Linked DNA regions of Homo sapiens: region 1 is linked to region 2. A link means that fine-mapping ties the variant in region 2 to the expression of a gene that starts in the linked region. Tissue or cell type: whole blood. Region 2 holds a variant in brackets; the other region holds the start of a gene. All regions are shown on one strand. Distances are from middle to middle.

What was found. PIP is the estimated chance that this variant, and not a neighbour inherited with it, causes the effect.
Region 1: it holds the start of CD2BP2, and the variant in region 2 is fine-mapped to the expression of CD2BP2 in whole blood (TOPMed, PIP above 0.99).

What each region holds. Positions count from the first base shown.
Region 1 is chr16:30,353,840-30,356,462 of GRCh38, reverse strand. CD2BP2 (CD2 cytoplasmic tail binding protein 2) reads left to right here and starts at 1,155. Exons shown (of 7, transcript NM_006110.3): 1 at 1,155-1,251; 2 at 1,756-1,859; 3 at 2,141-2,279; 4 at 2,405-2,562. The coding sequence starts at 1,782. It overlaps CD2BP2-DT (CD2BP2 divergent transcript), which reads right to left and starts at 1,029. Exons shown (of 2, transcript NR_184233.1): 1 at 843-1,029; 2 at 1-170. RefSeq lists enhancers at 984-1,043, 1,124-1,183, 238-1,189, 921-1,215, 906-2,105 and 1 more.
Region 2 is chr16:30,060,957-30,063,708 of GRCh38, reverse strand. The region is part of intron 4 of LOC112694756 (uncharaterized LOC112694756); the gene reads right to left. Among named protein-coding and RNA genes, the nearest start is that of ALDOA, 3.4 kb to the left of the region's middle. The variant GTTTT/T (reference allele first, on the strand shown) is at 1,500.

The sequences.
Region 1 (2,623 bases), 290 kb before region 2:
GAGGAGGTTTCCTCGGAGGATGAACCATCGGCGCTGGTAGCTGAGGTTTCGGGTCCCCTTCTTTAGCAGAATGCCTTCCTGGTCTGGGGCCTGTGTTCTGTAACCATGGAAGAAACTGAGCACGGACTTTCTGTGCAGTTTTCATCGTGATCCAATATGGGAGGAAACCCCTAGGGAGAGAGAAGTGGCCCATCTAGTTGCCTGGGGGAAGAGTAGGGGAACTCTCATGCTGTCCTCGTCTGGCTTCAGCACGTGCTGCCTGCGCACAGTCTTGGCTTAGGGGGATGCAGGCTCCGAGTGTCAAGAGCTAGGGGTCCCAGCACAGGGGCTGATCCCCGCTACCTCCCCAATTCCCCCTTCTGCTTGGGCCACATTCCGCTACCTGGGCAGGAGTTGCTAGGCCCTGTTTGCTCAGGGGGGCTTCATGCTGCAGAGAGGCACTGTTGCCCTTTTCCAGGCCTACCTGAGAGCAGGGCACAAGGGGCTTCTGGCCTGAGTACTGGCGCCAATGCCACCTCTCCAGTGATGGCTCTCCCACCTCAGAAACCAGGAACTCGCCCAGGGTATGGGCGTGGGACAAATTATTTCCCCTGGGTCCTAAAGGGAGGTGTGTTCAGAAAGTGCCCGGAGAGCCGTCCAGGGGCCCCAGGCTGGCCATCGGGAGAGTCAGGCTTCCCCTCGGAGAGGCAAGGCTGCACCTCTCAGGCTAGGAGGGCTGACCACTGGACCATAGGAATGGGAAGGCAGGATTTCTAACGAGACGGTAGGGGCGCTGAGCCCTTAGCCCTGGGGGAAGGGTGACTTGAACCCAGGACAGGAAAACGGAGCAGCAACCCACTGACCCTGCTCGGACTTTGCCCCTCCATCCTGACCCTGGGCGGCCCTTTAAGCAGATGCGCTCCAGTTTTTCTCCAGAGCCTCTACTGCTTGAATGACGGACTCGAAGCTACTTCCGGCCATTTCTCACGCCCAGTCAGAGTCCAGGAATTCTTAGGTTCCCTCTTCTCACCATTGTCCTCCCACGTGACTGACGTCACTTCTGGCGGGAGAGAGGGTGGAGGCGTCTTCGCTCGCTTATCGCATACTTCCGCCCGCTCTTCCAGTTAGTTCCCTAACCCGAGTGAAGCCACTTCCGGGCTTCCCGGGCGCCTTCCGCAGTCCTCTTCCGGGTGATGGCGGCCGGGTGCCCCGGATGTAGCCCTGGCGCAAGCATCTCTTCTTTTTTCCACCTCGCCTTCCGCGGATTCCCAGGTGAGTGCGCGAGGGTGGGACCGCCCGAATCCCCGTGGCCCTCTAAGTTGTACACAGCCCGGGACAGTTGGGGCTCACCACACGGAATTGGGAGTTCGGAGCAGGGAGGAACGGGGTGGCGAGAGCGCCAGGTCCTGGGTCTGCCGGGGCCCGGCGAGCTCCGAGAGAGCCAGGGTAGAGAGCGGGGGTCAGCCCGTGGAGCCGGTGGCGCGCAGACTGCGGGGGCTGGAGTTGGGGGCGGTCACGTGGTGAAGCCTGTCTCCTTTCAGCCAGGGTCGGGGGATCCAGAGGGTCCGCTCCTCCGTCCCCGCCCCGTTTAACTCGCGGATGCTAGACCCAAGTCCTGGAGGCCTCCTGGCTGCCAGCTTCCTTTCGGCCCCTGCTTTTGTGCTCCCTCCGCTCCCAAACTGTACCTGTCACAGACCAGGAAAAATGTTTGCTGTGCTGCGTCTGTTGGCGAGTCCCCTCCTCACCCGGTTCCCTTCCTCTGCATCCTTTCCTCAGCTTGAGAAACACCTCTTTGCCCCGTCATGCCAAAGAGGAAAGTGACCTTCCAAGGCGTGGGAGATGAGGAGGATGAGGATGAAATCATTGTCCCCAAGAAGAAGGTGAGGGGGCCAGACTGCTTTGTGTGGGGGAAAGAGGAGCTAGAAGCCTGAAGAGGAAGAAAGCTGGCGGGAGAGGGGCGGGGCGGGCAGGCAGAGAAAAGCCTAGTTTTTTCAGGTTCTCTGAGGAATGGGTTGGGAGCGTCTTTAGTGTGGCTCCTGAAATATTTGGGGAAGTAGTCGAGATCCTGAAATATTTGGGGAATATTTGGGTCCAGATCCGGAAGTATTTGGGGAGGTAGCCAGTAACCTGCATTTCTCAACTTTCTGGCTCCTGCTCACAGCTGGTGGACCCTGTGGCTGGGTCAGGGGGTCCTGGGAGCCGCTTTAAAGGCAAACACTCTTTGGATAGCGATGAGGAGGAGGATGATGATGATGGGGGGTCCAGCAAATATGACATCTTGGCCTCAGAGGATGTAGAAGGTAAGCTGTACCCAAGAATACACTCTGCTGGAAAAACAAGTAGGGGCCTCTGGTGGTGTGGAGCGAGGGAGGCTCCGGTCTCTTTTTTCCATGCCTGGAAAAGGGCACCTGTGTCTTTGGTGCAGGTCAGGAGGCAGCCACACTCCCCAGCGAGGGGGGTGTTCGGATCACACCCTTTAACCTGCAGGAGGAGATGGAGGAAGGCCACTTTGATGCCGATGGCAACTACTTCCTGAACCGGGATGCTCAGATCCGAGACAGCTGGCTGGACAACATTGACTGGGTGCGGCCCAGGGGCTGGCGTGGCTGGGGCCTGGGAGTGGCAGATGCTGGGCCTGCTCCCG
Region 2 (2,752 bases):
TTGAGGGAGGTGGGATGGGGCCACGTCTGTTGCTCTCTAAGGGGAGAAGGGAACAGAGAGGCCTGGGAAATCTCACTTGCCCAGTGGAACAGAGGGTACTGTCCATCATTCCCAGGAACAGTGCAATTCCCTGTGCTGTTGAAAAATCAGCAGTGAGTCCTTGTTCTGAACAACTGAGTTCAGAAGCTAGAAGCAATGATTCAGGGTTCTCTCCTTCCCATTTTATGGGTGAGGAGACTGAGGACCAGAGAGCAACTGGCCCTGGGTCCCGTGCTAGAATTTGGGCCTCCCGGTGTCAAGCTCAAAAGATGGTTCTGCTACAGTCCCGGGGTCTGTGCAGTTGAGGCAGTAGACAGAGAAAGCACACACATTTTTCTGTCCATCATGAAAATGACTTGTGGGCTTTATGGACTTCTTCAGCATGAGACCAAAATAGAGGGTCTCATTCACCATTTTTGAGCATCTACTCTGTGCAACGAACAGACCGCATTCATGAATGATTTTAAAAATCTTTACAGGTATCTTTGAAAATGGCAATTTACCTATTTTTAATTTTTTTTTTTTTTTTGAGACAGGGTCTCACTCTGTTGCCCAGGGTGGAGTGCAATGGTGCGATCTTGGCTCACTGCAACCTCCACCTCCTGGGTTCAAGTAGTTCTGCCTCAGCCTTCTGAGTAGCTGAACTACAGGCGTGAGCCACCACACCCAGCTAATTTTTGTATTTGTAGTAGAGATGGGGGTTTCACCATGTTGGTCAGGCTGGTCTCGGAACTCCTGGCCTCAGATGATCCACCTGCCTCAGCCTCCCAAAGTGCTAAGATTAAAGGAGTGAGCAACTGTGCCCGGCCATTTTTTTTTTTTTTTTTCCGAGATGGAGTTTCACTCCTGTTGCCCAGGCTGGAGCACAATGGCGTGATCTCCACTCACTGCAACTTCCACCTCTGGATTCAAGCGGTTCTCCTGCCTCAGCCTCCCAAGTAGGTGGGATTACAGGCATGTGCCACCACACTTGGCTAATTTTGTATTTTTAGTAGAGACAGGGTTTCGCTATGTTGACCAGGCTGGTCTTGAATTCCTGACCTCAGGTATCTGCCCGCCTTGGCCTCCCAAAGTGCTGGGATTACAGGCATGAACCACCGTGCTCGGCTCATTTTTTGTACTTTTTTTTTTTTTTTTTTGAGACGGAGTCTCGCTCTGTTGCCAGGCTGGAGTGCCATGGCGCGGTCTCGGCTCACTGCAACCTCCGCCTCCTGGGTTCAAGCGATTCTCCTGCCTCAGCCTCCCAAGTAGCTGGGATTACAGGCACGTGCCACCACGCCTGGCTAATTCATTTTTTGTATTTTTTTGTAGAGACAGGGTTTCATCATGTTGCCCAGGCTAGTCTCAAACTCCTGGGCTAAACCCACCTTGGTCTCCCAAAGTGCTGGGATTACAGGCATGCGCCACTGCGCCCAATCAATTTTAATGTTTTCAAAAGAATTAGATCTATTTGTTTGTTT[GTTTT/T]TTCAAACGGAGTCTTGCTCTGTCACCCAGGCTGGAGTGCAATGGTGGGATCTCAGCTTGGGGCAACCTCTGCCTCCCGGGTTCAAGTGATTCTCCTGTCTCAGCCTCCTGAGTAGCTGGGATTACAGGCGCCCGCCACTACACCCAGCTAATTTTTGTATTTTTAGTAGAGACAGGGTTTCACCATGTTAGTCAGGCTGGTCTCGAACTCCTGACCTCAGGTGATCCGCCCACCTCGGCCTCCCAAAGTGCTGGGATTACAGGTGTGAGCCACCGCGCCCAGCCTTATATTTTTTAATTACCAGAATCCTGAGTAATGGGCTTCTTTACAAAAGAGAAAATGGATGGTTAGACATGGTGGCTCATGCCTGTAATCCCAACAACTTGGGAGGCCAAGGTGGGCGGATCACTTAAGGTCAGGAATTCAGGACCAGCTGGGCCAACATGGCGAAACCTCTTCTCTACTAAAAACACAAAAATTAGCTGGGCGTGGTGGGGTGCACCTGTAATCCTAGCTACTCAGAAGCCTGAAGCAGGAGAATCGCTTGAGCCTGGGAGGCAGAGGTTGCAGTAAGCCGAGATCGACCCACTGCACTCCAGCCTGGGCAACAGAACAAGACTCTGCCTCAAAAAAAAAAAAAAAAAAAAAAAAAAAAAGGAAATGGAGGCATAGACAGAGAGGCAAGTGATGGGAATGGAGCTGGGATGTACAGTCCTGCCTGCAATCCCTCTTGAGCCCTCTGCCTCCCAGTGCCAGGAGCATCAGCCTCTCTCTGGGTCTGCCAGGGCAGGGGCAGCTCATCCCATATTCTCCACTGAGCTAGCACTGGACTCATGCTCAGCAGGTGTCTGAGATATAAATGAATGCTGAATGAATGGATGAATCTAAGCATATCATTTGCCTTCTTTAGGCAAAGAAGAAAGAAGAGGGCTTCTCAGCTCCTGGAGGAAACAATGTCTGTCTCTTTGGGGAATAGGAGCAGCGTGTCCTTAGAGACAAGAAGGGAGAACTGGTCTATCCAGTGCACTGCTGTCCTCCCCTGGGACAGGGATGACCCGCAACTGCCTTAGGCATGGGCTGGAGTCAGGCCAAATGGCTGAAGTGGCCCAGGATGGCTGTGTGACAGAAGATTGGCTCCTTGAGGCCAGAGGCAGAGGTAGTGACAGTCACAGTTGTACAGTTCAATCAGAAACTTGGCCAAGCCAGGAATAGGGGAATGACCTTTCCAACAGCTGAGGTTTCAGGGTG